Homo sapiens: one gene and its partners. The protein of the gene in region 1 interacts with the protein of each later gene in a pairwise test. Each region holds a gene or a part of one and is shown in the gene's direction. Other genes may lie near its edges.

What was found.
Region 2: the proteins of LMO3 (region 1) and SNX33 interact in binary tests that used the Homo sapiens proteins (3 or more experiments, as listed by UniProt).
Region 3: the proteins of LMO3 (region 1) and HOXC4 interact in binary tests that used the Homo sapiens proteins (3 or more experiments, as listed by UniProt).
Region 4: the proteins of LMO3 (region 1) and CEP57 interact in binary tests that used the Homo sapiens proteins (3 or more experiments, as listed by UniProt).

Annotation. Positions count from the first base shown.
Region 1 is NC_000012.12:16,603,146-16,611,050, reverse strand, and holds the start of LMO3 (LIM domain only protein 3), read left to right. Parts: upstream 1-4,888; 5' UTR 4,889-4,985; intron 4,986-5,080; exon of another isoform or gene 5,081-5,237; coding exon of another isoform or gene 5,238-5,283; intron 5,284-5,671; exon of another isoform or gene 5,672-6,161; coding exon of another isoform or gene 6,162-6,186; intron 6,187-7,905.
Region 2 is NC_000015.10:75,643,267-75,650,917, forward strand, and holds the start of SNX33 (sorting nexin-33), read left to right. Parts: upstream 1-4,645; 5' UTR 4,646-5,836; coding exon 5,837-7,307; intron 7,308-7,651. UniProt on the Homo sapiens protein: Plays a role in the reorganization of the cytoskeleton, endocytosis and cellular vesicle trafficking via its interactions with membranes, WASL, DNM1 and DNM2. Acts both during interphase and at the end of mitotic cell divisions.
Region 3 is NC_000012.12:54,048,994-54,056,535, forward strand, and holds HOXC4 (homeobox protein Hox-C4), read left to right. Parts: upstream 1-4,841; 5' UTR 4,842-4,929; coding exon 4,930-5,368; intron 5,369-5,856; coding exon 5,857-6,212; 3' UTR 6,213-7,037; downstream 7,038-7,542. UniProt on the Homo sapiens protein: Sequence-specific transcription factor which is part of a developmental regulatory system that provides cells with specific positional identities on the anterior-posterior axis.
Region 4 is NC_000011.10:95,785,609-95,793,501, forward strand, and holds the start of CEP57 (centrosomal protein of 57 kDa), read left to right. Parts: upstream 1-4,889; 5' UTR 4,890-5,090; coding exon 5,091-5,135; intron 5,136-7,893. Other genes in the region: protein FAM76B, read right to left, coding at 511-666, 2,016-2,070, 2,891-2,955, 3,784-3,870. UniProt on the Homo sapiens protein: Centrosomal protein which may be required for microtubule attachment to centrosomes. May act by forming ring-like structures around microtubules. Mediates nuclear translocation and mitogenic activity of the internalized growth factor FGF2, but that of FGF1.

The DNA of each region.
Region 1 (7,905 bases):
TTAAAGGACTTGTCAGCCCCAATCCTAGATTCTTACAGTGCAGGAAATGTCTCTCCTTTTAAGTGCAAAACCATAACATTACCATTTCCCCAAGTGCTCTCTGTTTTAGGCTGCTTTCCTAATTAGAGGGATGATAACAGCCCTGCTGATTGGCATTATAAAAGCACTAGTTTGGCTTCATCTGTCCCAGGTGTGCTGTGTAATTTTTTTCTTCTCACCGTTTCAGAGCACTACCTCTCTCCTTCATTGTTCCTTAAAGTTTTCATCTGAGGAATTAATACAGATAAAAAGACATTAGAAAGGAAGCACCACTGCCAAAGCTCATCACTGAAACCTTTTATCAAAAGTACAAACTATACAAGTTAGAGGATTTTTTTTTTACCCTTTTGTTTCTGAGGGTTAAGGGGGTGGGGTGGGGGTGGTAGTGTGGAGAGGAAAGGAGAAGAGAGGCTGGGGGAGAAAACACAGCTCTGTCAATGGACTGAATGCACCATTAAAACTGGCGTCACTACAAAGGTTAGAGCAGATCTAACTGTCAATACAGTGAGTAGAGTGGAGTCCGGTAAGGGGGAGCTTTGGTGAGAGATACTTTGATATTTTGGAATGTTAGAAGGGTGAATGTGAAAAATTGGAGGTTGGGGATCTAATTACCCAACCATAATTGGGGGCTAGGGAATAAGTTGCAGTCCTCTCAACTCACCGCAGATCAATTATGTTAAGAGAACATCTGTAAGTAGAACTTAATGAGGTCCATTAGAGCAACATGTACAGCCTCCTCTAACAGTACTTGTCAGCTTCTTGGATGAGCTGAAGGAAGCTGCTAACTAGGGACCTGGCGAGGTGTTTAAATACTGGAGGAGCAGCTCTGGCCCACTCAGGTTTTGTATGCAGTTCGGGAAGAAAGTGAGAAAGGGAGAGGCACACAAGAAAGACAGGAAGCCTGAAGCAGAGGTTTCTTTCATTTGTGTTGCTGAATTTCGAAGAGTGATGGTGGGAGTGTGTGTGGTGGGGGCAGTATCAACCTCATCCTTCCCTTGACCGAGACCTTTCACTGCTCCTGGACTTTCAGGGTGTGCTATCCTTTGCCTCCCCCCAACAACCTGTCTGCTGCCCTAAAAAAAAAATTAAAAAAAAAAAAGACGGCAACCTAACCGGAGCATCTCTGGGACGCCACAGAAATCGTAACTGAACACCCGCACACAAAAGTAATCTGTGAGGTGTGTTTTAAAGAAAGAAACAGCTGAAAACTTGAAGACGTGTTTAGAAATATACATATATACACACTATTTTCTTGTGGGAGATCTCCTTTGGGCAAAGGTAAGTAGTATATATCTAATCACCCCCTCAGCACCCTCCTCCACCCCATTTTGTCATTCCCCTCCCCTTTTCCCCTCATCAAGGTATCACAATATAAGACCCCTGAAGAAGACAGTCTGCCTTTTTTTTTCCTTTAATAAGTGTTGGGATGGGGGCTGGATGAAGTAAATTCTCTCATCAAACGTCTGATGATGAGTTGCAGAAAGAGGGCACAGGCAAAAGGTAATCGGACCAAAAAGATCTGGCTCTTTATAGCAATCCTTTCGCAAAGATTTCCAAAGGATCTGTAATTAAACTGGGTAGTTTACTCTCAGGAAATGAAGAAACTGCTTGCCTGGCTGGATCCAACCTTTAGCTTGGCTGAGTAAACAAAAGCACAAATTCTTCTTTCACTTTTTCCCTCGCGGGAGGGGTGAGACTTTGGGGTTGGGGGGAGCCAGGAAAACAGGGAGTTTGCTGAGGGTTAATGGTGTTTTTCGCAAAGTGTCAGCAGAAGATGATTAAATTCCACCTCTTGTTCACCAGATCACTTTGTGTGCACTTGTATATTTCATTGTCGGCAACCGCTGATGATCACATCTGTGCAGTACATTAAGTGGCAAGCCTCTTCATCTGCACGGGGTTTTTCTGATGATTTTTTCTGTGAATAATTCATATGATTATGAAGAGAAAAACTGCTATTTTCTATCTCTCTCCCTTCTGTAGCACAGATTAAAAAAAATCTTGCTGTAAATTGCGTGATTGGGGAGATAGCCTGCTTTCAAATAATTTAATTCATGACAAAACCTAATTACTGTCAGGTAATACCCTGTCAGCTTTAATGCATTTCATCAGTCATAATGAAAAGAAGAGCATTTTATGACCCATCTAATTATCATTACATTTTAGGGGAAAATGAATGGCATGGAGCTGAATGTTAACTATTCCATTTTATTCCTTTACACATGTGGTTTGGCATATTATTCGCTAAGTTCCTCTCTCTCTCTCTGTCTCTCTCTCTCCTCTGTCTCTCCTTCTCTCTCTCTCTCTCCTCCTTGCTTGGCAGTATTACTTGCTTATAAGTGTGGGGGAAATGGTAAAATTGAGAGGAAAAGGAAGATTGGGGAAAAAGGAAGAGGATGGGATGCACTTAGAGATCTGGGTGTTTGTCCCTTAAGAAAAAGGTGACAAAGTGGTTAATGTCTTTGCAGGTTGGTGTTGATATCAGGAATCTTACTGCCACAGTCCAAATAGAGTACTAATTACCGCGAATGATGTCACCGTAGGCAGAGGAATAATCCCATCATTTAATTAGTTGAATGATTTAAACAAAGATTTGCATAGATGCACTAATCAGTTGCCATGAATTACAGAGCAGCAGTTGCCAGCGAGGGGTAACAGATCATACAGTTGGAGGGAAAAAAAATCTCATCTCCTTGAACATAATTAATTTAATTGTCCTCATTAGCTGTACCATTTGTTTTGATTTTATTTCTCCCTTTCCCCACACATACTTCTCCCTCCCTCCCTCCCTCTTTTCTTCTTCTCAGTGCATTGGCTGAGACAGAGCGCACGAGACACACACACATGCATGCACACATATGCACACACACACACTCACACATACTGGGGTGTTTTCAGAGTGGCTGTAGCAGAGAGGTGGGGTAGAACAGTGGGGAGCTGTGCGGATGGGTGAAGTGCATGTATGCCTGCCTAGACGGGCCAGAAAAGCCAAACTTAAGAAATCTGCCTATGTACAGAACAAGTCAACTAAGGGGTTCTCATTAATCTACCGTCTGTGAATATCGTTATTTTTCAGGTTAGTTCTGAGTTTTGTTGCCTTTTAAAGGGAGAGGAAAGCAAACCACAGGCTATTTTATTATGAGCCTTCAAAAGGGAGGGGGTAAAAACTAGTTATCAATGTTGTGCCTTTATTCTTTATGAAGAAAAACAAAATTTAGCTTAAATACTCATGGGGGGGGTGCTTTGATTTTTTTTTTAAAACTAGAGCTAGATTAAAACTGATGGTGAAGAGAAGAAAAAAAGTTTTTTGTAGTTCAACAATTGAATATTTCTTGGCTCTTAAACATTTCAGTGAGTGTCTTTCAAATGTGGACCATTTTTAAGCTTGACCTCTGACAAAGCTTTGTAAAATCTGGTGAGGGTACTTTAAGAGCAGCCCAAACAGAGGGTGACTTTGAAGTTTGAAAACTTAGAAAAATAATAAGGTATTTTAAAGCTACCAGTGGCCTTTATAGATGCCAAGGAAAGTTAAGAGGAGAGGAGGTTAGAGAGAATGGGACCTATTAGAAAAAAAAAAAAAATCTGTCAAGGCCTTAAAACAAGCCTGTGAAGACAAAGCAGTAATGGTGCAGAAACTATGGTTCTTTGACCAAGTTAGTCCTGAAAACATGTTTCTCAGTGCTGTTGGCTGTTTTTCATTGGAGCGTGTGAGTTTTAAATAGTAAGGAATTCAAGTAATTGCAGGAAGTGTGTTTCGGGGTGGTGGTGGTGGGGGTCAGCATTAGTGAATGGAGAACAAGTTCACAGTTTGGGTCTTGGGCCATTAGAGGAAGGGAGGAAGGGAGGAAGGAGAGTGTGTGTGTGATCCCCTGAACCAGGCTTGTGTGGCGGACTTGCGGAGCAGCGACTTCAGAGAGTTCATGAATGGAAGTCACAGACAGACCAGCGACTGCAGCCACCTCCAGGCATTTCTTAAAGGGGAGGGTTGTGTGCTTTTTCCAGGGTATTCTGGTAGCAGTTTGATTCTCTTGCTTTTATTTTAATTTCCATAATTGGTAGCTTCAGAAATGGCTTTGGAAGGCAATTTGCTTTAAATGTAGCCACCTATTCCAAAATGCCCTGGTTATTTTAGGAACCCTACCCTTTTCCTCCGGAGCTCTCTCGCAGGAGTTCTTCTTTTGGACTGGTCCAGGAGGTAGGGTCCTTCCTCAGTCGACTCCTGCAGAGGTCACATTTTGTGTGCGGGTTTGTCCCCAGCGTTTGTGAGTAGCATATGCATGTGGTTGTGCTGACTGCACTCGCAGGCTTGTAAATTTTCACCCTGGGAAATTAGCAACAAAGCCCGATCTGTCTCGTGGCTGCTTTGCACTTTCCGAGGGCGGCTGTACTTGACTGAGCTGCAGAACAGGCACACGAGAGCGAGCGAGGGAGCCAGCGAGAGAGGGAGGGAGAGAAGGAAAGAAGAGGGGAGGGGTGGGGGCGAGAGGTAAATAGTCTTAAATCGGAAGGGAGCTGCTTCTCTGTGGTCTTGACAAGCGCTGCCTGGGCTCCGCCGGCTCACTAATAACTGAGTGACCTTTTCTTTGGCTGTATTATGTCTGGCTGGGAAGGGATTGCATTTTGCAGCTGAGAGCCGGAGCTTCCTTCAGCTCGGCTCCTCGCACGCTGCTGGGGTAAGTTGTCTTGAACCAGGACGGAGAGAGACAGCCTCGGACTGCAGTTGCCTAAAAGGAGGACACCTGTGGCTCAGATGCGGTCAACACCATTGCTTGGCGTATCCTTGAGGACCTCATTATTTTAAACTTAAAAAAAAATAGACATTCCCTCCCCCGTCTTTTTTTTTTTTTTCAAACAATGCTTCTTTTTGACCTTTCCCAAGGAGAAGCGCTACAAAGCAGCCACTGTGCTTACTGAACGGCCTCCCCCTGTATCGCTTAATTGAGAAGGTAAGTGCAGCAACTGTGTACACACGCGTCGGCTTATTTGTGGTGTGTGTGTCTGCGGGTGCGCGCGTGCGTGTGCGGATGTGGGTATTTTTTTCTTCCCCAACCTCTGCTAATGAGGCATAAACTGGAGCTGCAACCCAGCTCCGCACTGCAACTTTCACTCGGGCTGCAGCTCTACTGAGACGGTTTTGTTTAAATCATGTGAGGCTTCATTATTTTTATGATGAGACATGAAATAGATGCAGGCGGAAGATGTTGATGGAAGGAGGGAGAGCGGCTGCGGCGCGGAACGTCTCAAGTACGACTCGAGTGGATAATAGTCAAAGTTCACCATGAACTGCAGTATTTCCACACCCCTGACTCCCGGGGAGAGAGGGGCAGGGAGAGTTTGGAATTAGGAAGTGTTTGCTCCCAGCCCATAGGAAAAGAATTCAGTCCTGGGTGGGTTTCCGGACCCCTCCCCCTTACTTGCTGGAATTCATGAACCCCCACTTCTTAAAGAGTTGATATTACAATCTTTTGGTCCTTGTTGACGCTTCTGCCTCTCTCCACGCAGCCATAATAACAAAATGTTGTTCCTTTGCCGTGGAAAAGTGGCTGTGTTTGGGCATGGGGGCGGGGGGGGGGGGCAGGCGGGTAGGGGCAGAAGTGGCTAGAAGAGGGAAGGTCCCTGGACCAAGGTGCCTATATCCTAATAGATTGAGATTCAAACTGATGCAGCACATTTTTTACGGGGACTACTCAGATTGCTGTTATGAAATACAAGTCAGATTTATGATCTTTTTCATATTGAACATGATATGCTATGCTAACGCTGCATGTGACAGTTTAATCAAATCCATTTGTTACCAGGAAGCTAAAAGGGGCCGCTGGGATTTTAGGATTACGGGCAGAGTTAGGGAAGCATGTGGCTTTGTCATTCGCCATCATTTTGCACACTGCGAGGGGCTCCGTGTGTGCGCCCTGTCTTGTCTGGCCGTCCTCATCCCTTCCCCCACCCCCTGCCGCCACTCCGACCCGCTCCCAAAGTGGCTTCACAATAGTCGGTCCTCGGCGGTGTAGGCTGCGCACCAGGTCCACACTTAAGCGAAATCAAGGAGACCCCCTTCTACTTCTACCTTTGGGTTTGGTGCTCAATGCGAAGCTGCTGCAACTCAGACACGCCTAAGTCAACTCATGCAGAAAAAGGAGAAAAGTTTTGGTAAGGTTACAGTCTATCATAGATGCACTTTGCTGGCGCTCTGCACTCCTGGCCGCTCAAAAGCCTTTCTGCTTTTCCGCTGCTTTTGTGTCTTTCTGAAAGAACCGAAATATTATTGTTGTAACTGCTTTGAAAGACTGCTGCTTAAACCAATTAATCTTGCTAGATGCAACAAATACTGCTACATTCTTTGCAAACCATCCCTGTGTGGCTGCAAAGACACAACCACAAAAGGCTGGAGCATAAACTCCGCAAGGGATTCTTTGTTAGAGTGTATGTATGTTTCTTATTTTTTTTTTTTATTTTGCATGTGAGCTGCATCAAAATTGAACTCAGTCTTGCAAATCTCTTGTTGGCCTTTGCCAAGCACTAGCACTTTGCTGCCATGGTAACTGTAATTAAACTGATAAGAGTGGAAAAATGTCAGTATCTCTGAGCCTTGCAGCTGCATTGGAGAAAAAGGGAATCAAATTGGTTCCCAGCTCCATTGCTCAAAAAGGGGAGGGGGGTGAAGGATAGGGAAGGGGGCTGGGAGTTGAAGGGGCAGAACAGAGTTAAGCAGCTCCAGTGCCTGAGATCTGGGGACATCTATTTGCATTGTTGTCCCTTAGGGGGCTGCAGCCTGTAGGGATGCTCTGGGCCAGTGAACAGAGAGAAACAAGCTTTTAGGCCCAATCCAGTTTTCCAACCTGGGTTGGGGGCTGGGAAGAGGATGAAGATGGGCAGGAGGAGAGAAAATCTTTTGTCTGGTGCCTCTTGGCAATCGAATGGCCATGTTGGCCAAATTCTTTTAATCTGTGTCAATGCTCCCAGCTGCAGAACCTGCATTCCCATTTTAGCATCTTTCTGAAGCACCTCATCTCTTCCAACCCCCTTTATGTATTCCCTCTTCCTCTTCCCTCTCCCAAATTGTTCTCTGTGAATTTTCCGACGGACAAAATGTTTTCTATTCACTCTGTGTAGTTAGTCCAAAAATGTAAGACTGTGTCTAAGTGCTGCAAATCTTTCATTATTATTATTTTTTTTAAACCCCTGTGTGTTGTGGAGTTGTGGTTACTTTGTTGTGTTAACTACTGAAGCTGAGACTGTGCGGATGAATGGTACAGAACAAGGGAACATAATGGAGGCAATCAACCGTTAGGCCGCTTCACAATGCAATCCAGGCAATTAAAAGCTCACCAGAGTTTAAATGAAATGGTTCTACTTATTTCTGCACACCACACTGCACAGGCTATTATTTATGTCTTTTTTTTAATTATGATTTCCCTTAAACTGTCAAATAACTCAGAATGGCAGGGTCTCAGAGGCAATAAGAATTTCCCTCAGAACAATTTACATGCCAATCTAAAACTAGTTATGAGTTCTGATGTGCTATGAGCAACTTGTGAAATGTTTCTTAGCTACAAACACGTAACTCTACCCAGACATGTTCTTCTGGTGGAAGAGGGGAGACTGCTGACTGCTTTATGCCTTTTAAGTACACGGTAACATGGTGACTACAAAATAGTTCTTTTGCTACAATTGTTAACTTGCATGGAATTCAAGAGATTCCATTTTCAAGAGAATTGCCATGATGTTCTTCAAATAAGGTACCAGGATGGAGTGTGAAATATCAAACTCCTTTTATGCCCAAGGCCAAACAGAATGTAAGAGTTTCAAATATTAATTGGCCTCTGAGTGCTAAATTAAAATGTCAACACAACAAAAACATTTTGTGAA
Region 2 (7,651 bases), on another chromosome or scaffold:
GATACAAAAGACAAGAGGACAACTCTACTGTGGTTACTCTAACGTTAAGAATTATTGGAGGCTTGCTGGGCGCTGTGGCTCATGCCTGTAATCCCAGCACTTTGGGAGGCTGAGGCAGGTGGATCATGAGGTCAGGAGATCGAGACCAGCCTGGTTAACACGGTGAAATCCCATCTCTACTAAAAATACAAAAAGTTAGCCAGGCGTGGTGGCGGGCGCCTGTAATCCCAGCTACTTGGGAGGCTGAGGCAGGAGAATTGCTTGAACCTGGGAGGCGGAGGTTGCAGTGAGCCGAGATCGCACCACTGTACTCCAGCCTGGGTGACAGAGCAAGACTGTCTCAAAAAAGAAAAAAAAAAAAGAATTATTGGAGAGAAGAGGATGAACCAGTGAGGTGGAAGAAATACCAGGAGAGTATGTTCTCTCCAATGCAAATGAAGAAAATGTATCCAGGAGGAAGGAGTGATCAACCAGGTCAAATGCTACCAAAAGGCTAAATAAGAGAAGGACTGAGAATAACCATTAGGGTCCAGCAACACCAAGGCTATTGATGACCTTGACAAGAATAGTTCAGTGGAGTGTGGGAGTAAAAGATTGGCCAGAGGGATTTAAAGAGAGAACAGGAGAAAAAAAATTGGACGCACTTAGTATAGACAGCTATTTCAAGGAATTTTGCTGCAAAGGTGAGCAGAGGAATGGGGCAATAGCTGGTGGGGAAAGTGGAGTCAAAAAAAATTTTGAGATGGAGTCTTGCTCTGTCGCTAGGCTGGAGCGCAGTGGCGGGTGCAATCTCGGCTCACTGCAACCTTTGCCTCCCAGGTTCAAGCGATTCTCCTGCCTCAGCCTCCTGAGTAGCTGGGACTACAGGCACACGCCACCATGCCTAGCTAATTTTTGTATTTTTAGTAGAGACGGGGTTTCACCATGTTGCCCAGGATGGTCTCGACCTCTTGACCTCGTGATCCGCCCACCTCAGCCTCCCAAAGTGCTGGGATTACAGGCAGTAGCCACCATGCCCGGCCTCAAAAAAAATCTTTTTTAACATGTGGGTTGATACTTCACTCAATAGCTGCAGCTTATTGGTTGCTTTCCCAGTCTATTCTACCTCCAAAAGCTCTCCCAGATTTTTGTCTCTCCAGCCTGTTACCCCTGCCCTATGTCAGGCCCTCATCATCTTTTGTCTGCATTCCTACAGTAATAGTCCAGTGTGTCCTGCAGGCTGCCACCAGCAGAGTCAGCCTGAAAACCACTGGGCACAGTTCTCCCTTGCTGTTTCCTTTCCTAAAGGATGGAAATTGGATGCCTGGATGAGGGATGGATGCTGTTTCCTGTGTATGAATCAGGGTCCCAGCAGGAAAGACAGAACACACCCCAGTGAGAATAACGTGAGAGGCTGGGGGTGGTGGCTCATGCTTGTAATCCCAGCACTTTGAGAGACCGAGGCAGAAGGATTGCTTGAGCCCAGGAGTTTGAGATCAGCCTGGGCAACATAGTGAAAAGCCCCCTATACAAAAATACAAAAGTTGGCTGGATGTGGTGGCGGGTGCCTGTAGTTCCAGCTACTTGGGAGGCTGAGGTGGGGAGGATCACCTGAGCCCAGGGAGGTTGAAGCTGCAGTGAGCTGTGATTGTGCCACTGTATTCCAGCCTGGGCAACAGAGTGAGACCCTGTCTCAAAAAAAAAAAAAAAAAAAACAGAAAAGAAAAAAAGAATAATGTGAGACTTGACTAAAGGGACTGTTTCCATAGGAATGGGCAGGGTATAGGGAGATCACAAGGGTTAGTGCAGTTTCCTGAGACTGCTAACATGGCCTGTTTCCCCTAGGACTGAAGAAGGTCCCTGGAGGGGAGGGAATGGGAAGATACAGGTTCTGGAAATCTCAGTGAGGCTGAGGAGTGAGTTCCTCCCAAGAACCTGGAAATAAGGGTGGCTCCTGAGAGTTACAAAAAAACCCGTCTAGAACACATGTGGGAGTAAATCCAAAATGGCTGGTCTGTAAATGTGTGACTGAGTGTTTGGGAACCAACTAAAGTCTGTCAAGGGTGGTGGCTGAGGACGCCTCGGGGAGGTTGGGCTGGAGGGGGACCCTATTGGGTGAACAGAAATCCCAATTGTATTAAGTAAACTAATAAAGGTAAAGCGTTTACTGTAGTGTCCATCACTCAGCAAGCACTAAGGAAGTAGATGCTTTTTTTTGCTTTTTTTTTTTTTTTGTGAGACAGCGTCTCGATCTGTCCCCCAGGCTGGAGTATAATGACATATACAATGGCACCATCTTGGCTCACTGCAGCCTCTCACTCCTGGCCACCTCACCTGGCTGATGCTATCTTTTTTTTTTTTTTTTTGAGATTGGAGTCTTGCTCTATCACCAGGCTAGAGTGCAGTGGCACAATCTCGGCTCACTGCAACCTCTGCCTCCTGGGTTCAAGCAATTCTTCTACCTCAGCCTCCTGAGTAGCTGGGATTACAGGCATGCGCCATCACGCCCAGCTAATTTTTTGTATTTTTAGTAGAGATGGGGTTTCGCCATGTTGGCCAAGCTGGTCTCGAACTCCTGAGCTCAAGTAATCCACCTGCCTTGGCCTCCCAAAGTGCTGGGATTACAGGTGTGAGCCACTGCACCCAGCCCTGATGCTATTGTTAAACTCAGTTTGGAGAAAGGCTATGTGGACAGAAGATAGATCACAGGGAAGGGGGGGGTCCTAAAAGCACGTGGGGAAAACGTATATTCTGTCTTAGAGATGCTAGGACGAACTGTCTTTAGAATGAAGGCTGCCCCATGACAGGAAGCAAGGTTTTAAGGTTACTTGACTGAGAGACTCCTCATACCCTTTCCCCTCTTGGGGGTTCCAGACTCACTGAGCTAACTTTCTGGTAACTGGGCTTCCCAAGGGGTAGCCCAAACTGCCTTGATCTATTGATGCAGAAATTCAGTTCTGCTTGACAGTTTTATTTCTCTGTGCAAATTGATACCTAGCCTTCTGGGGTTTGTACATAGGCCTTTATTCTGGTCAAATGCCAGACCTGCGAAGGGAGTCGGATCCACTCACTGAACCAGTGAAACTGGGTTTTGGAGCCAGAGGTCTGGGAACCATGTCCCTCAAAACAGCCAAAGGTATCCATCTTTAGCAGAACTACCTTGTACCAGTTAATCTGCAATAAGTGACTAGGGAGAGAATGAAGGGAAGATCTAGCTAGACAGGGTAGACAAGACTCCAGGGTATAGCCAGGAAAGGGAGTCCTCCTGAAGCCTTTGCCTCATCTTAGGCACTTCCTCCTTCAGGAAGCTTTCCTTGATCCTTGCTCTACCCAGGCTGGGGTAGGTACCCTCATGTGCACTTTTCATGGCACTAACTAGTCACACTGGGCAGGGAGCATTTGTCTACTTGTCACAACATATCTGAGCTTTTGGAAAATAAGGATAATGTCTTATTTGTCTTTGTAGCTCAGGGGCCTGGTGCAGAGTAGGTACTCAGTTAATGTTTCTTGAGTGCATGACTTGGCTGAATGAATGACTGAGACAGAATGGATTGATTAAAGACAAGAGAGGGTGGACTGTAAGCCCCCCAGGATAGAAACCCCGACTGCCTTGTGGTGTACTACTCCCCAGTGCCCAGCACAGTGCCTAGCAGAATCAATGCCCAAAGTGTTCCCGATATGCTGACCGAGGGTCAGATCCCACTTGCCTCTTCTCGAAGATTCTCTACCTGACCACTTCTCTCCTTGCTGCCGCTGGCTAGCACAGAACATCCAGTCCCCGCTGCTGTACTAAGCAACACGGAACCGGGTGGCACCTAGACTTGTTCCCTGTCGCTGCAGATGTAGAGTAGTGTCTTTCCCTCCTTCCAAGCTAGTCGCCCAGGGCAGGGTCGCCCTGTCTGGCTAGGGTGCTGCACCCGCAGCTCTCGGTATCTTAGGTCAGACGCCTGGAACGCGCAGGCCGTTTCTGTTCCTCCGGAAAACAATCTCTGAGCTGCGCCACGACCCGTCCCTGCGGAGCAGGAGTGGGGAATGGGAAGGTGGGAAGGCGAGTCCGCGACTCTGCTCCCCAACCCCAGCTGGCGCGGCGGCTTTCCACGCACCCCCCTCCCCCCACCCCGATCTCCCGATCCTGGCTCTGGCGCGGTGCTCCTTGCAGCCCCACGCTTTGCAAACTTTCGGAGTTTTACTCCATTTGCGTCACGGAAAAGGCAGGAGGATGACGGAGTCCAGGAAGCGAGGCAGCGGCAGCTGGCAAGCTCCCCCGCCGGGCGCTCCAACCACGGGGGCGTGAGGTGTCTCCCGGCGAGGGCGGACAGGCGGAGGGAGAGGAGGGGAGGTGGCGGTCCCAGGGACCAGCCCCGGAGGCTCTCGGGCCCCCTCGTTCCCGGGTCGTTTCCTCCCTCTCGCCTCCCGGACTGAGCGCCAGCGAGCGAGGGCGCTGGCCAGCTGGGAAGCCGCGCGGAGGAGTAGGCGGGGGCTCGGCTGCAGCGCCCCGGGCCCGCGGGAGGGCGGAGCTGGCCGTCCCTGCCCCGCCGGGACGCACGGAAGTGCAGCGGAGTTTGCCCGATTCTCCAGCCTGCTTCCCCCTCCCTCCTCCCTCTCCCCACCCCTCACCTCCCCTTTGGCGATCCCCTCCTTCCTCAGGACGCCACCTCCCGGAATCGCCTTTTTGTTTTGGAGCTGCCTTCTCGCTGGCGGAGCGGAGGGTCTGCGAGCGCCGGGGAAGGCAGGCTGGGGGCGCAGCCCGCCCCCCACTGGCCGGGCCCCGCAGGGCGGAGAGGAGGACGGACGGACAGACGGCTGGCCGCGCCATCTGCTCGCCGGAGCTCACTCTCCAAACTCCAAACTGTTGAGTGTGTGCGTGCACGCGAGGGTGGTGATCGGGGGTCGTAAGTCCCGGGTGAGGAACCGGTTTCTGCTGGGGTTACCTTTGGACGGGGTTCCTGGGATTCAGAGCAGGGTCAGCGTCAGGCTCAGAAACTGCTGAGGAATTAGGCAAACAAAAGAGACCACTCAGCGAGTGGCTAGAAGTCGCCCGACAGCCTCGTCGCGCCCCCTCCTTCCTCCGGGGTTGGGGCTGGCCACTTCTGGGGCGGGGAGAGGGCGCCCGAGCCGGCGGGGGCTCCGGCTGCGCAGCCGGGGTCGAAGAGTTGGCGGCCTGTTGTGTAAGCCTCAGTCCTTGTTTTCCCGGCCTGGCTCGTTGTGAAGCCGGACACATCCACCCTTGGACTCGATTCAGGCGGCTGCTGCTTTTCTCCTTGCCCCTCTTGGATTTTCCGGATTTTTGAAAACCCAGTGGCCCAGGAGCAAGAGGAGGAAGGAGGAAGGGGCAGATCTGCAGAGGAATGTGAGAGCCTCCCAAAGCGAGAGCCGCCAAAAGAATCTGGGAGCCAGAGGGACAGCCGAGCCCTGCCCGGGTTTCTGGAATGGTGGTTTCAGAGTGAGTCTCTTCTATTTTAGAACGTTGTTCCAGTGGAAAGTGTCGAATTTTTCCCCTCGCAGGGCAGATTTCTCCAGGTCACTTGACTTTTCTTCTGGGAGTAGGAGTTAGGAGAGATTCCCCTCTAACCCCCCAGAGGCTGCTAAGGGAGGAGGAGACTGTGGACATGAGCCCTCCCTGCTCACAAGCATATGCCCGGAGACCTGATAGGGCAGTTTCTGGGCCATGGACATTGCTTTGAAGAGGGGGAGACTGGACAGCATCTGTGGGTGCTGAGACCCCACCTTAGGACCTGAGAGATTGAACTGTGTAAGCGCCATTCAGCTGCGAGTGCATTCTTGGACTGCCTTGTGAGCATCCCCGGTCTGGGCAGGACCCTCTCCTTCCCATCTTTCTATACCACCCAGCCCAGCCATGGCACTGAAAGGCCGAGCCCTCTATGACTTTCACAGTGAGAACAAGGAGGAAATCAGCATCCAGCAGGATGAGGACCTGGTCATCTTTAGCGAGACCTCACTGGATGGCTGGCTGCAGGGCCAGAACAGCCGTGGGGAGACAGGGCTCTTTCCTGCCTCTTATGTGGAGATCGTCCGTTCTGGCATCAGCACCAACCATGCTGACTACTCCAGCAGCCCTGCAGGCTCTCCCGGAGCCCAGGTGAGCTTGTACAACAGCCCCAGTGTGGCCAGCCCAGCTAGGAGTGGTGGGGGCAGTGGCTTCCTCTCAAACCAGGGTAGCTTTGAGGAGGATGATGATGATGACTGGGATGACTGGGACGACGGATGCACAGTGGTGGAGGAGCCACGGGCTGGTGGGCTGGGCACCAACGGGCACCCTCCCCTCAACCTCTCCTACCCTGGTGCCTACCCCAGCCAGCACATGGCCTTCCGGCCCAAGCCACCACTGGAGCGGCAGGACAGCCTGGCATCTGCCAAGCGAGGCAGTGTGGTGGGCCGTAACCTCAACCGTTTCTCATGCTTTGTGCGTTCTGGAGTGGAGGCCTTCATCCTGGGTGATGTGCCCATGATGGCCAAGATCGCTGAGACATACTCCATTGAAATGGGCCCTCGTGGCCCCCAGTGGAAGGCCAATCCCCACCCATTTGCCTGCTCTGTGGAGGACCCCACAAAACAGACCAAATTCAAGGGCATCAAAAGCTACATCTCCTACAAGCTCACACCCACCCATGCTGCCTCACCCGTCTACCGGCGCTACAAACACTTTGACTGGCTCTATAACCGCCTGCTACACAAGTTCACTGTCATCTCGGTGCCCCACCTGCCTGAGAAGCAGGCCACTGGCCGCTTCGAGGAGGACTTCATCGAAAAGCGGAAGCGGAGACTCATCCTCTGGATGGACCACATGACCAGCCACCCTGTGCTCTCCCAGTACGAAGGCTTCCAGCATTTCCTCAGCTGCCTGGATGACAAGCAGTGGAAGATGGGCAAACGCCGGGCGGAGAAGGATGAGATGGTGGGTGCCAGCTTCCTGCTCACCTTCCAGATCCCCACCGAGCACCAGGACTTGCAGGACGTGGAAGATCGCGTGGACACTTTCAAGGCCTTCAGTAAGAAGATGGACGACAGCGTCCTGCAGCTCAGCACTGTGGCATCAGAGCTGGTGCGTAAACATGTGGGGGGCTTCCGCAAGGAATTCCAGAAGCTGGGCAGTGCCTTCCAGGCCATCAGTCATTCCTTCCAGATGGACCCCCCCTTTTGCTCTGAGGCCCTCAACAGTGCCATTTCTCACACGGGCCGTACCTATGAAGCCATCGGGGAGATGTTTGCTGAGCAGCCCAAGAATGACCTCTTCCAGATGCTGGACACACTGTCTCTCTACCAGGGCCTGCTCTCCAACTTCCCTGACATCATCCATCTACAAAAAGGTAAGGCCCAGTGCAGGCAGGAAACTCGTCCTGAGTCTGGCTCTCTGCTGGGCCCTGGGGAGATGGGGATGGCCTGGATAGAATGGAGCAACTTGTCTTTATTTCTCTGTCTCAATCATTCATTTAACAAATGTGTTGGGCTGGGCACGGTGGCTTACGCTTGTAATCTCAGCACTTTGGGAGGTTGAAGTAGGAGGATCACTTGGGCCCAGGAGGTTGAGACTACAGTGAGCCCGATTGTGCCACTGCACTCCAGCCTGGGTGACAGAGTGAGACCCTGTCTCTAAAACAAACAAACAAACAAACAAACAAACAAATGTGTTGAATATCAACTCTGTGTCTGT
Region 3 (7,542 bases), about 37 Mb from region 1:
AAGAAGTAAAGCTTGCATCAAAGTTAGCAAGGGACACCCCAAACCAAATTTTAAAAAGGATATCATCCAGCAGTCTTGAAGAGGGGTGGGGGTCAATGAGGCTGGGATGAGGGAGGAAGGTGGTGGGGAACCCAACCTCTAACTAACAATTTCTCCAGCATAAAAATGAAACATCAGATTCGTTAGCCCAGGGCCTTCATTTTTCCCCTTCCACATTATAACTAGTTATTGAACTCGCTGGAAGATCTAAAGGCCATTTGCGAAGAGACAAATTTCAATGGAGTTTCCCCATCAATAACCCCATGGCAGTGAACTATTGGAACAAGTCAAACACCCGAGGTGAAATGCAGGTCACTCTGTCTAACCAATATTAAAATGCGGCCACTTTTTAAAAAGCCACTTTAAACGAGATTTGAGGAAAATTGAATTCCAAGGAAGGCAAGGCAAGGCAAGAGAAATCCATGAGAGGACCTTGCCTAAGGTCTCCAAACAAACAAGAGAAATTCATCTTTAATATTTTAAAGGGGGGCAAATTAACATTCCATGATTGCTTTTTTTTTTTGAGACTATAAGCGATTCCAGGAGAAGAAAAAAGGTTGAGTATTTTCTGGTGACACATCCAGGTTATTAAAATCATTTTAGACCAATTCATTACTTTTACTGACAAGAGATTTAAGAAAAAATCAATTAAGATTTGCATATTCTTTTGCATACATTAGCCCTGGCTGCCGGCATTAGAAAGGGACAAACACATACACACACACACACACACACACACACACACACACACACACACACACACACACGAAAAAAATGGGCTATGAGCCTTGATTTAGTTTTGGGTTTTCAAGTTGCCCAAAGGAAAAAAAAATCAAAGTGAAATGAATTGCCTGATTGCATACCATCTAAAATTCAATTTATATGAGTGAAAGGAAACAGAAATGTTGCAATTTTTAATCCCTAAAACAACAACAACAACAACATTCACACACATAAACCCTGCATTTCAAAGAGTAGGGAAAGGAATGACCCTCATTTTCCTTCCCTTTGCCCTCCAAATCCTGAATTGGTTCACCCATTTATTTTTCTCCCTTGGAAAAATCAGAGAGGGGTACGATTTTAATGCAGCAGAGAATCTATGGAGCCGCTGAGCTCTCTCAGCCGGCAGCTTGTTACTGGGGAGGGGAGGAATATGGGTTATCCAACGGTCAGTATGGTAATCCAGGCACAATAAGGCCTCACACACAATGGACACATATTTTTCTTCAGCGATGTCAGAAGGGAAGCGCTTTGTACTGAAACGTGTTTCCGAAAGAGAAACCAAATCGAGATTTAGAAAGGAGATGGGGTGGAGGGGCAATTGCAGAGAGCATTTGGATGCTGGCAAAAGGTAGTCAGAAAAAATAAAAATAAATAAAACTGGGGCAAAGTGAGGTTGAGGACAGGGCAGAGGTGCAGCCCCTGGGCCAGCAAGGCGGGAGGCAGGAGGGTGAAACACAAAAGAAGACAGGACCAGATACAAGGATTCATCACAGATGAGAGCTGCTTTAGTACCCCCACCCCCTCCCAATTAAGCCATTGCTAAGTGCAAAAGCCCTTCCAACGGATTTTATTTCTGTGCTTGTAATAATATCCAGGTGAAAATGTTTGTGTGTATGTGTGTGGTATTTTACCCATGTGACAGGCGACTTCCTTGCTATTAAGCTATAGGAGCCCAAAGAGAGTTGCTGTTGTTGTTTTGTAAATGATGTAGATGAGTGTGGGCACATTTGGGGGAATCTTGGAGATTTCACTTTCTGGATGTGCATGTTGAATTAGCTGCACGAACCTGGAATGAAAACTCTACATATTTATAGCTGCATAAAGAGGCATTTAATATATTAATAAATATTAATAGTGTGCACGCATATATGTTAACCATAATAACCAAAGACAGACTTGACATTCAGTTGGGGGCATCTGAACCCTCTGTGTCTACTACTTATACTGGCCCAAAGTCAGTCTCCTTGACCCCCCTGCAGAAGCTCAGAAACCTGGCGGGGGTGGGATGTGACAGGCAACATATTGGGGAGGACTCCTTAACAAGTACAGGAGGGTGAAGATTGAAGAAAAGAGGGTTAGCGTCAGGGCACGGATGGTAAAAGGTGAGTGTGAGGGCTGAGAGGATGAGAGTCAGGCTCACAGCTCACCTTTCCAGGTGAGGCAGCCGCATCCAGGTACAGGCCTAGAAGGGAGACTGGGAGTGGGGCCGGGAAGGTTTCCTCCCTCTTCATCAACCCTCTCCACATGGCACCAAAGTTTGCTGAGCTTTGGACTTCCCGGTGGAGCCATCTGGGACTACAGTTCAGACTTAGGTACTAGGATTCAGCACTGGTTTCCCTTTGCCCTCTTCCAGCAATTTATAATGAACCCACCCCCACCACCAATGATTAAGACAACCCCACACAACCCAAACCACTATTAACCAAGCAGTAGCCTTCCTCCGCCCCCTCACTCACAGTCTCAACTTCCTCTCCAACCAAACCAGCCTGTCCTCACATGCAGAGAGTTCCGGACAAGAGTGGGCAAGGGTTCTCAGCCAACTCTGAGAATTTGGGAATCTCCATTAGAGGTGTTCAGCCTCTGGGGAACTCCTGTTCCTTCACCTGGCCTGGTTACAGTGGGGATGGGCACTGTCCTCTTGGAGAGAGAGTATTCAGGGACCACCAAGCACCAGCTCCTTGGGAGCTAAGCCCTGGCCCTGCTGAGCCTGGGGTGGGGCTGGGGGCCTAAGCATTGGAGGAGGGAAGGCAACGAGGGCCCAGGCGGGAATCCGCACCCTTTGGGCACGGCTGTGGGTCCAGCTTCCCTCTCATTCCAGCCCTTTGGGGAAGCCCTAATTTGGAAGTGGGGACCCTCTCCAACATCCCAAAGGTGATGAGAAAAGGATTGGAATCTCTTGCCTTCAGTCTCCCTCTCACAAGGGCTTTATTTTTTTTTTCCCTTTCCCCTCCTCATTCCCTTAATTGCAGATGTTCTAATTAAACCCTCAAATAGTTGTTATGCCGTTTTAAAAGGTACTTATTCAAGTGTCAACCAGGCTGGGCTGGGAGGAGGTAGCGTAGGGCGGCGAATTAAAGGTAGATTGACTAATCACGGCGGCGATCATAATAATAAAATCAGAGGGAAAAAAAATCACATTACGACTTTTCGTGGAAAGGAGGGAGCAGGCAGCCAGCGGCCGCCAGCCCTGCGCCGCCGCCGACACAAAGAGTGCGGGCGATTCCGCGAGACTGATTTATGACGTTTTACAGCCCTATAAAAGCTGTAGCGACGAGGCAAGCGCTCCTACCACCGCTGGCAGATTTAGTCTAATAAATAAAACATAAACAGTTAACTTTATGTGTCACTTTTATTGTTATCAAGTAAAATATAGCTGAGCCCTGGCAAGCTATGATTTTAAACTATAATTGTTATCAAGTACAACAAGGGGACCCGGCTCCCTCCCTGGGCTCTCCCCTCCGCTACCCCCCGCAACTCTGAGTTATGGGCGATCAGTTAATTGGAATCGGTGGCATGACAGGACCACCCCTAGCTGGGGGGGGGGGGTGGTGGTTAGGAAAGCAGCTTTTCCTGGCCCCCTCCCTCCTCTACGGCCCTGTCACCCCCCTCCATCAGAGTATTACTGTGAGTGGGTGGCAGAGAGAGAGCAGGGGGTGTGAATGGGCTGGAGACCCCAAAGGCTGGCCGTGCCTCCCCAACTTGGTGAGCTTAGCCTTCCGTTTTTGGAAAGCAGCCTGGAGCTGGCCTTTAGGAATTCGTGTTTACATGTAAACACACGTGTTACATGGATACAGCTCCTAGCCAGAAGCAAGCAGGCTCTACCCACACAGGCCTCCCTCTTAGCTAGGTCTGCCCTCTGTGGGGACAGAGAAAGAACTCTCAGGATCTTGGCTGGGCACCATCACAGGGCACTGACTCCTGGCAGAAAGCTCTCCTCCTTGCCCCAGCTCCTTGGAGATAATTGTCAGAAAATAGCAGGCCGGGCTGAATGGGGAGTGGAAACAGAAGCCAGCAGTAGAAGAGATCCTCTGCTCTGGGGCTGGGGCAGGGAGGGTCAGTGGGTAGCAGGGGAAGGCGAGACTTCTGAACTCTGCTTTTGCCAACCACTTCCTGTCTCTCTTCAGCGGGGGCTCAACCCCCAGACCTCCAGAAATGACGTCAGAATCATTTGCATCCCGCTGCCTCTACCTGCCTGGTCCAGCTGGGACCCTGCCTCGCCGGCCGCATGGCCAGAGGGTTGGGTGAGTGTGTATGGGGAAGAGGGGCTGGACTCTGGTATCCTTGGATGGGGGGCACTCCAGGCTCTCCAGCCTCCTCGGCTCAGCCTGGGCCCCTCCCCATCCAACATCCACTCCAGTCCTCATTCAACTTCCTCTTCCTGCGAAAGAGGGGCGCTGCCCCGTGACCTACACAGACTGAGACACGATCGCCATGAATGGAGACCTCTGGAAAAGCTCAGGAGCCGAGGCCCACGGGGCCCAGCAGAGGCCTGAGGGGAGACCCTGGGCGGGGGCTGAATCACTGCCTCCCGACAGTCCCCCAATGCCCGGGCTTTGGAGGGGAGCCGGGAGCTTCCCATCTCCTTTTGCAGGGGAGGGTTGTCAGTCTGGCGGGATGTGCACTGGGGGCACTCCAACCTCTGCTAGCTAACCCCACATCACCACCCACCCCCGCCTCCCAGCACCACCACCACCACACACACAAAAAAATTGGATACATTTTGAATAAAGCGATTCGGTTCCTTATCCGGGGACTGGGTTGCTCCGTGTGATTGGCCGGAGGAGTCACATGGTGAAAGTAACTTTACAGGGTCGCTAGCTAGTAGGAGGGCTTTATGGAGCAGAAAAACGACAAAGCGAGAAAAATTATTTTCCACTCCAGAAATTAATGATCATGAGCTCGTATTTGATGGACTCTAACTACATCGATCCGAAATTTCCTCCATGCGAAGAATATTCGCAAAATAGCTACATCCCTGAACACAGTCCGGAATATTACGGCCGGACCAGGGAATCGGGATTCCAGCATCACCACCAGGAGCTGTACCCACCACCGCCTCCGCGCCCTAGCTACCCTGAGCGCCAGTATAGCTGCACCAGTCTCCAGGGGCCCGGCAATTCGCGAGGCCACGGGCCGGCCCAGGCGGGCCACCACCACCCCGAGAAATCACAGTCGCTCTGCGAGCCGGCGCCTCTCTCAGGCGCCTCCGCCTCCCCGTCCCCAGCCCCGCCAGCCTGCAGCCAGCCAGCCCCCGACCATCCCTCCAGCGCCGCCAGCAAGCAACCCATAGTCTACCCATGGATGAAAAAAATTCACGTTAGCACGGGTAGGCAACTTTGCTTTTTGCTCCCCCCCTCCCTCCCTTCTTCCCTAGCGCTCCCCACCCTCCTCGGCCCCCTCTGGCCCCCGTCCTCCTTTCTCTCCTTCCCCCTCTCTCTCCAGGAGCGACTCTGGGTTAGCACAATTGAACTGGATTTACGAGCGAGAATGGGTAATTACATCCCCCATAAATTTTATGGCTTAGCTACTCTGGGCAGTCCGAGCCATGTGCTACGATCTGTTATGTATGTGTGAAAACTATGCTCGCTTTCTAAGGGCGCATAAATAATTCAGTGTCGTTACAATGAGGATTCCCCTCTTATTACACTACAAAGTCTTCAGCTTCCTTCAACTTCTTTATAACCCATTTAAGCTTGATGACTTTATTTCCACCACTCCCTCCTCCTGTTTCTCAGAGCTGAGGATGGGGTGAGGGTGGGGGGCGGGGAGCCTGCTGCCTCTGAACCCCACTATTTGCTTTTCCCCTCCCCCCAGTGAACCCCAATTATAACGGAGGGGAACCCAAGCGCTCGAGGACAGCCTATACCCGGCAGCAAGTCCTGGAATTAGAGAAAGAGTTTCATTACAACCGCTACCTGACCCGAAGGAGAAGGATCGAGATCGCCCACTCGCTGTGCCTCTCTGAGAGGCAGATCAAAATCTGGTTCCAAAACCGTCGCATGAAATGGAAGAAGGACCACCGACTCCCCAACACCAAAGTCAGGTCAGCACCCCCGGCCGGCGCTGCGCCCAGCACCCTTTCGGCAGCTACCCCGGGTACTTCTGAAGACCACTCCCAGAGCGCCACGCCGCCGGAGCAGCAACGGGCAGAGGACATTACCAGGTTATAAAACATAACTCACACCCCTGCCCCCACCCCATGCCCCCACCCTCCCCTCACACACAAATTGACTCTTATTTATAGAATTTAATATATATATATATATATATATATATAGGTTCTTTTCTCTCTTCCTCTCACCTTGTCCCTTGTCAGTTCCAAACAGACAAAACAGATAAACAAACAAGCCCCCTGCCCTCCTCTCCCTCCCACTGTTAAGGACCCTTTTAAGCATGTGATGTTGTCTTAGCATGGTACCTGCTGGGTGTTTTTTTTTAAAAGGCCATTTTGGGGGGTTATTTATTTTTTAAGAAAAAAAGCTGCAAAAATTATATATTGCAAGGTGTGATGGTCTGGCTTGGGTGAATTTCAGGGGAAATGAGGAAAAGAAAAAAGGAAAGAAATTTTAAAGCCAATTCTCATCCTTCTCCTCCTCCTCCTTCCCCCCCTCTTTCCTTAGGCCTTTTGCATTGAAAATGCACCAGGGGAGGTTAGTGAGGGGGAAGTCATTTTAAGGAGAACAAAGCTATGAAGTTCTTTTGTATTATTGTTGGGGGGGGGTGTGGGAGGAGAGGGGGCGAAGACAGCAGACAAAGCTAAATGCATCTGGAGAGCCTCTCAGAGCTGTTCAGTTTGAGGAGCCAAAAGAAAATCAAAATGAACTTTCAGTTCAGAGAGGCAGTCTATAGGTAGAATCTCTCCCCACCCCTATCGTGGTTATTGTGTTTTTGGACTGAATTTACTTGATTATTGTAAAACTTGCAATAAAGAATTTTAGTGTCGATGTGAAATGCCCCGTGATCAATAATAAACCAGTGGATGTGAATTAGTTTTACGTCAATGTCTGATGGTTTCTTTTTATTCCCCTCCCTCTCTGGCCTGGTAACATCCCATCTTCTCTATAGTTGCCTAAGTTTACTTTAAACAAACACACAAATCTTAGCTCTCCATTAGTCTTCCAATGTCCTTAGAAGAACAAGCAAGGGGGTTGGGGTATGGGATCTTCAGAAGAGGGGATGTGGAAGATTAAGGCTGATTTCTCCAGTCCCCTTCCTTCCCCCTGAGTCTGCAGAGAGACCAGACTCCTCTGGGGGCACTTCAGTGGAGCTGAGGGTGGGGAGTGTCTCACTTTTCTATAGTTAGGTACAGTTTCTTCTTTTTGTCTTTTCTCTCTCTTCCCTTCTCCCTCCTCTGTGCTGAGTAGGCCTGCCTACTTTGTAGACAAGGGGGCAAGTTTAGGGAGTGGGAAGGAGAATAGTTTTCTTTCATCTTTTAGGGCTCTTTTGGGATGAGGGATTAAGGAAGACATCCCCTCAACATTTGAGTTCTTAAAAGAAGGA
Region 4 (7,893 bases), on another chromosome or scaffold:
AATTGATAGGCAACAGGAGGCCTGTGTGAATGCTGATCGGCAAAGGAATTATCACATGAACACAAATACTTATTACATTAAGTCACTGCAGGTAGACAAAAACAAACAACAGTTTCAAATATGAGCCTTTATCAAAAGGCACAAGAGTAACTGAATTTTATGTGCCAATGTGCCATCAGGTATTTTTTTCACACCAGTGATGTCAAGTAACTAGCAAAAGGGTAAAGTAAAAGGAGATATTTAAGCAATTAGTTAAATCTCCTGAACCAAATGTGGGATAGCCAACTAGTACAGAATAGCCACCATAGAATATTTTTTAAAGTATAGTACATGAATCTATGTATCATGCAAACAAAGAGAAAACTCACTATTCCTGCACTTTCATCTAACTACTTGCTTTCATGGACCTAAAGAATAGATCCAGTCTCAGTAGTGTATTAATTATAATTTCCAACTTGTTTGGCATTTTATTTAATTTCCAGAAGATGTCATAACATAAATAAAGCATACCTTTCTTCTTCCTTCCTCCTTCCGATCAAAAGCACATTGCTGTTTGCACTGTTCACAGGTCTGAGGTGGTCCATACTTTTTTTCTGAATTTGTGCAACGCTGACACTTGGTACCAATAAATGCTGCAATTATGTTACAGTACTGACAAGGCTTGGGCTGAAAAACATACACATTTTGAGACTTTTAAAAACATTAAATATTTGCGGCATAGCATATACCCAGTGTTGTAGACATATTTCTGGAATTAAGAAAACTCAGGTAAAAAATTTGTTTTCTGTCAAGTTTGTTGCCCTGTCACATGCAATAACTTTTATACCATATTTCTATGCATTCAACTAGTATTTATTTCTAGTCATGTAACTATTACTCTAAGATCGTGAGAAATAGATTTGTGATTTGCATAGTCTGTTAGATAATACAAAAACTACACATAAAAAAGGTTTTAAAGAACGAAAATAAAGGTACATATGTAGAGAAGTCTCATGAATCAAGAATTTGAGGAAACGTCCTTCTACTAATATCCTAGTTACCTTAATGACCATATCATTTATTTAGAAAATGTTAACTTTTCATCACATATAGGTACAAATCATATAAGGAATATATACTGTGAGTTTTCAACTTTGAAAAAATGAGAACAAGCATATTCAACATAAACTATAAAAACATACCTTGATTTTCTTTGATATTCAAAAGATGATTCAGGGCAGTTTAGAGCGTTAAAGTTAGCATTTTTGACCAATAATAAATAATATTGGTATAATATACCTATAATGATTGTAGTATACATATAAGACAATTTGTACTAGGATTGGGTCATGACTTCTGTGAATAAATATCTTTAATTGCGCTGTTTTATAAAAATAGTTCTGAGGAGGCTGTTCTGAAGTGGGCTAAAGTCTGATGATGCAAACTTTATGGATAAGTTCTCCATAACCAAGAATTTGCTATATTTGAATCTCTAAAGAACAGCTTCACAAATTTCACACTGGATTCAATACATGTAAAACAGGTATATAATTTGACTGTTTTTAAATGTTATCACCTTTCCATCAAAGTATCTATAGAAAATGTCTTTCATAAAATATGGTATGTTGAAATATCTAAGAGCATAGCAGTAGTTTTTTTTTTTCGAGACGCAGTCTCGCTCTGTCCCCCAGGCTGGAGTGCAGTGGCAGGATCTCAGCTCACTGCAAACTCCGCCTCCTGAGTTCACGCCATTCTCCTGCCTCAGCCTCTGGAGTAGCTGGGACTACAGGCGCCCACCACCATACCCGGCTCATTTTTTTTTTGTTGTATTTTTAGTAGACATGGGGTTTCACCGTGTTAGCCAGGATGGTCTCCATCTCCTGACCTTGTGATCCGCCCTCCTCGGCCTCCCAAAGTGCTGGGATTACAGGCGTGAGCCACTGTGCCCAGCCAGCAGTACATATTTTTTTAAAAGGTCCAGCTTTATGAAAAATATTAACTGGTAACAATGACATGAAAACATAAGACATACTTACCGTCCCAAATTGCTTCACATTTTGAGCACACTTCTTACAAATTGTGTTAGTTTTGCTGAAAAATAAATTGTATATAGATCATGTTTATGTAGCTTTCTAAAGTAATTAGCACAATGTCAAAATAAAATGAGTCAAAGATTTGTTGTACTTAAAACTTTAATAAGGACCACGGATTTTTTTCAAATATACAAGGATATTTTCAGAGTTGTTTTACCCAAATTAACTTATGACAAATGTTTTTATACATTTTTATTGCATATTACTTTTTGTAAACAAAACATCTTAATGTTTCCTATATAGCTCCAAAATCTTCACACTTGACACTATTACTGCACAGCATTACAATACCAGTGCCTACCTAACCTTCCACTTGGCTACTGTCCAACATTATAATGCCCACACCTATTTATGAAGAAATTATTTGTTCTTTTCTGAGGCTACTTTCTGTATATACTCTCAGAGTGGAACTGTTAAAAATGTTACGTACTACTCCTCTTCTATGTAACAAATTATTAGATTTTCACCTTGGAAGGCAGTTGGTAACACTACAGACCTTTCCTCAGATCCATTAAGGCTTTACCATTTTTTTTTAGTTTAACATAACTGTTTACATTTGCATTTTCATTAGCAAGGCTGTACATTTTCCATGTAGTATTATTCCTTCTCTCATATAAAGTCTAACTGTAAATTAACCACCACTGGTTTTTTTCGCAACATTCTCTCTCCCACCATGTATAAAAGGTTTACAACTTAAAATTTCTGGGGCTAAACCATTTTTTAAAAATACTTTCATAAAAACATGGGATTACAACCCCCAAGTATTCCATAAAGACAACACTTGTCTTTAACAGTCAAAAACTATTCAGTATACAAACCTCTCTTGTTGAAATTCTGATCTGCAGTAAGTACATTTTACAATAGGATGTGCAATCCGACATTCCTGTAATAAGACAATACATTAGTCAGTATCTTTCTGAAAGTCCCAAATCTCACTTTTCTGGTAGAAAACTGTTTACCCAACCTAGTGAAAGTCTAAAACATTTATAAAACCTGGCCCCAACGTAAAGAACTGGATGCTTTATCATATAAGTGGCCAATCACAATATAATTCCTTAGGGAAGGCACAGGTGTCTTTGTCTTTAGTAGACGTGGGGGTATATTACAGACAAATTAAGAAAGCTGTCAGGGCCTATTTCAAGGATTGGTTAAATGTGAAACTACTTATTATTTTGCACCGTTGCTCACAGACAGCATCCAGGCTTTAATGGGATGGGAGGAGCTCCAAATCAGAGCATTCTGTTCCCAAACCAGTCGCTTCGCTTTCCTGGACAGGGAAGAAGGATGCCATCAGCTTTGCGGCTTCGGGTTCCTAGCAAGAAAGTGCAAAAACCGTCCCCTGCCTCCTGGTGGAAGAAGAGGACAGACCAGGCAGAAAACCGAGATGAAAACATCTCCACCCCTGGGTCTCTGCGGCATAGACAGGTGGCTGCCTCACTCAACCCCACTCCTGAGACCCCCAGACGCTGACGGGGCCCGGCACCCTCCTGGGCCGCCTGGAAAAGGGCACGATTCTGCCTCCCTTTCAGGGTCCGTTCCCAGCTAATGTTCAAGCCCCCAGAAAAAGGGGTCCCCGAGTGGGGAGGCGAGGGCTCCAGACTCCCAAACCCCTGAGGCGCCGGCGAAGAGGGGCTGCAGTGCAGCGGCTACCCGGCCCCCTCCGGCTACGGCCGAGGACACCCATCCCGCCCGCCTCCCGGAGCCCACGGACCTTGCAGAGCTGCTGGCCCTGGGAGAGCTCCTCGAAAGGATAACGCTGGGTACACTTGGTGCAGGCGTACAGGGCCGAGGCCGCCATCCTGCTCCTCAGTCTCCTCCTCCGCCGCCGCCCGCTCCGAGGCGGGGCCCTACGGAGAACCCGAGAGCCGCCGCCGCCCGGGCCGCGGGCTCCTCCTCCTCCCCCTCCCCCTGCCTCGCGCCCACCAGGGCCTCGCCGCGAGAGCCCAGGGCCCCGCGGACGACGCCACCGTCTCCCTCCGCCTCCACTTCCGCCCCAGCCCACCCAGTGACGCCGTGCCAGCCGCTCCCGCTTAGGCCCCGATAGCGGCGGAGGGAGACGAAGCGGGTAGGGGGTTGCTGTTTAGCTGTGCGGCCGTGGATCCGCTTCCTTCTCGGCCTCCCTTTCCCATCCCTGATTGGCTGCGAAGGCTATCGCGTCATTCGATGGCTCCTCCCAACTCCCAACTTCCGCGACGCAGGAAGCGCCCACAAAGGGAGGATGTCGCCGGCCAATGACATCCCGGAGCTCTCAGCGCGCGAAATCCGCTTTGAACCTGCCCCGCCCAAAGGTCTGCGGTCGCGGCTATTTCTAACAGCCAGTCCCAGGTTTGGCTGAGAGCGCCCCAATCCAATTGAGCAAATGTTCGCGAAAGGCTCGTTCTCTGCCGCAACTTTTTTTCCCTTGCTTTCTATTGGACTAAATCGTTAAGTCCCTCCTAATCCTATTTGTTATTGGCCAAAAGGTAAATACTTCACCTGGAGAGGCGTCCCCGAGGCAAATTCACGCTCTCTCCGGCGTTTAATCCGAGGGAACTCGTGGAGTGCTTTAACTTCGCCTTCGCTTTTGTTTTATCTCCATTACTCCCTTCAGTTGCCACTGGCGACACCACTACTCGCCCACGCTTCTTACTGGAGGAGGCCCGACCCTCCGTAGAATCCCCGCAGAGCCGGCCTGTAACCCCGGCGTTGTCTGCCCCAGCGGGCCCCGTTACGCGCTACCTTGTGACGTCACCAGGGAAGAGGCGGATTCTCTCCTACTACAGAAAGACGTCTGCTGTTTTGATTGGCTAGGAAAGACGTCCGTTAGGACGTGTTGCCCTTTCTGTGTAAGCTGTGAGCGTAGGCGGCCCTGAGGGGGTGTGTTGCAGGGGTTTCCAAGCCCAGCACCAGCACCCTTGCCCTTTTCCATCAGGGGTTCAGCCTAGGGTCCCCGCTGGTGGGCGGCTCCCGAGTCTTGGAGAAGAGCACGAGAACCTAGACCGCCCCCGAAGTGCGGAGACCCCCTGGGCAGGCTGAAAGATGGCGGCGGCGTCTGTCTCTGCGGCTTCTGGTTCTCACTTGTCGGTAAGAAGCAGTTGGCGCGAGTGGGCCCCACGTCGGCCCTAAGCGCCTCTTTGAGTTTCCTCACGTTTCAGGGCGCTGTCAGTCCAGCTTCTGACGCAATTCTGGAGGTCGGCGGGAATGCCTAGATTGCCCCGCGCTCCCCAAGCTTCCATTCACTGTGGCTGTGTCGAAGCTGCACCCTCTGGCTCCCAGTGAAACTGGGCTGGCCGCCCCTGTTCCCCAGCCCTTATTCACCTTTTGGCGTAGCAACCAACCCCGGTTGCCTAACATTCCCAAGGGCCGGCTGGGATAACTGCCCACTCCCTGGCCTGCAAAAATGTAGCTCTTTTGGTCACGTGGGTTCAGCGGCCCCTCTAGGAAACTCGCCAGATCAGGTGAGGCGCGCCAGTGTGTTTAAGAGACGTTGCAGAATAGTAGTCCGCCGTCTCTCGAGCGCTTACTAGTCGTTGCTTATGCTGTTTCCTATCCCTGCAGTGCCTCCCACTCCCATCCACATTAACTTCGTTGTGTGATGCTCGTAGCCAGAACGCGCGCTTCCTGTCACCTAGAATTACTGGAACTTCAATGTGGAAATGCCCTTTTGGAGAGGCGACAGGGGGAATTGATTTTAAATATTGTTTTCGCCTCATCAAATGTCACCATCCAGTTTAGTTACTGGTATTCACTGGTATTTCTCAAATTGGAGTGTCGAATGCTTAGGTTTTTGAAAACCGCGGCATTGGAAAGCTTTGATAGGAAGTAAATGTTGGAGCTCTTATTTCTCCAGTTAGCAAATGTTCGATGCCTGGTATACTGTTAGGGTCCAAATGAACAGAATAGAAACCCTGCTTTGAAGGAGAAAAACACTGAAGAGAAACTACACGTAATTAGTGATTACTGCGCAGTATAGTTTAGGAAGTGCTACCGTAGTAGAATAATCTAGAGGGGAGTGATTAACAGTGCTTGGGTAGGCTAGAGAAGGTTTCCTAGAAGGGAAGATGGAGCTAGTTGCGTGTCGAAGGAATTGTGATTGCTTGTCCCAAGAGTAGAGAAAGGAGAAAAAGGCAGTGCGGGAATTTTGGAGTATGTGCTAGAACAGTAGGTGCTTTTAGGAAACTTGAGATAGTTCGGAATGAGAAGAAGTAATACGGAGGTAGAGCTGGATGAGGTGAATTGGAAACGTAGGTAAAAACGTGAAAAAAGAAGGATGGTGAGGGAAGGAACTAGAAGAGTATCAGGGTAAAGTTATTTTCTAGGATCTAGGGGGAAAGAGTTGGAAACGCTAAGAAAGCCTGGTCACCTTGGAGAAGTCAGTTTCAGCTTTTGGAGACTTGTTAGAATTTGTAATAATGGGACTAGAAGTATTACAGTGTTTCAGCCGAATGGGAATTAGAAGTTTGCAGAGAGGTCTGGGGAAGTTAAGGAGAAGTAAGGAAAGCAGCAATTTAAGGTTATTCAGGATTAGGTCAGTAAAAGAAAAAAGTAAAAAACTATTGGAAGTGTCAGCAGATGGATGAGATTTTATAGGAGATGTGATTAAACTTGGGAGAAGAGGGCTTTTCACGGCTCTCAAAAGTTAAGCACTTGGAGACCGAACAAGGAATACTCTTACAAATGTTGAATTGAGTCTGGGTGCGTGGCTCATGCCTGTAATACCAGCTACTAGTGAGGCTGAGGCGGGAGGATCACTGAGGCTGAAGTGAGGTATGATAGTGCCACTGCTCTCCAGCCTGGGCGACAGAGCGACCCTGTCTCCATAAAATAAAATATTAAATAAACGTTTAATTGAGCTGCACTATGCCAAGGACACCTAGGTGAGCATTGGCACTGGGATATAGTCAGCTGTTAATACTTATACGGTACCCTTGACAGAAATACCAAAGACTGTTCATTAGGAAAGCATATTTTTTTTGTGCTAAGCTCAGCTTTAATAGGATTCTAAATATCAAGGGTACACTAAGAATATCTAGGAACCTCCACAAATCAAAGTATAACAACCATAACTCAATCTGCTACATCAAAATGTCTATTTTGGAAGTTACTGTTTCTCAAAACAAAAATGACTAAATTTAGTTGGTTTCTTGGTGCGTAAGAAAACGTCCTGCTTAGATGTCCCATCAGAAATAAGGCTGCCATTTCCAACAGCGTTGGAAAAGCACTTAGCTTATCAAACAGCTGATCTTAACAGTAGGCAACATTTAAAAAAAAAAAAACTTGTTAAAACTATACCATGAACTGAGAACACAACTCGTATTCAGATTTCACGGTTATGAAGATTAACAACTGTTATATTCAACTGTTTTCGACATTGATAAACTCATACGGAGCTAGTTATAAGTACATTGAGATGCTTTACAGGCAAAGATTTTTAACAAGTAGATTCATAAATAACCGTCTTTGGGAAGCAGTGACCATGTAAATCTCAAATGTGAACAGCATGGAAGTAGGGCGATAGGTTTCAGTTAGGTTCTAGGTAACGTTTATTGAGTGATTGCTCTGGAATTGATAAACTTCGACTGGTGGAAAAGGCAGGAAAGCAACTATGATTGGGCATAATGAAATTAATTCCATATGGAGGTATGGGCAGCATTGTGTTGAAATACACAAGAATGTCTTTCATGTCAGCCTTGTAATATTTTCACAATAACCTTGGTGATTAATGACCTAATCTCTTGATTTGTCCCTCTGACTTTTGGTCCTTCGACCAAGCTGCACAGTAGCTCCATATTAATTTCCCTTAAAAATGTTTTATGGCTATCATACATTTTATAATATTAAA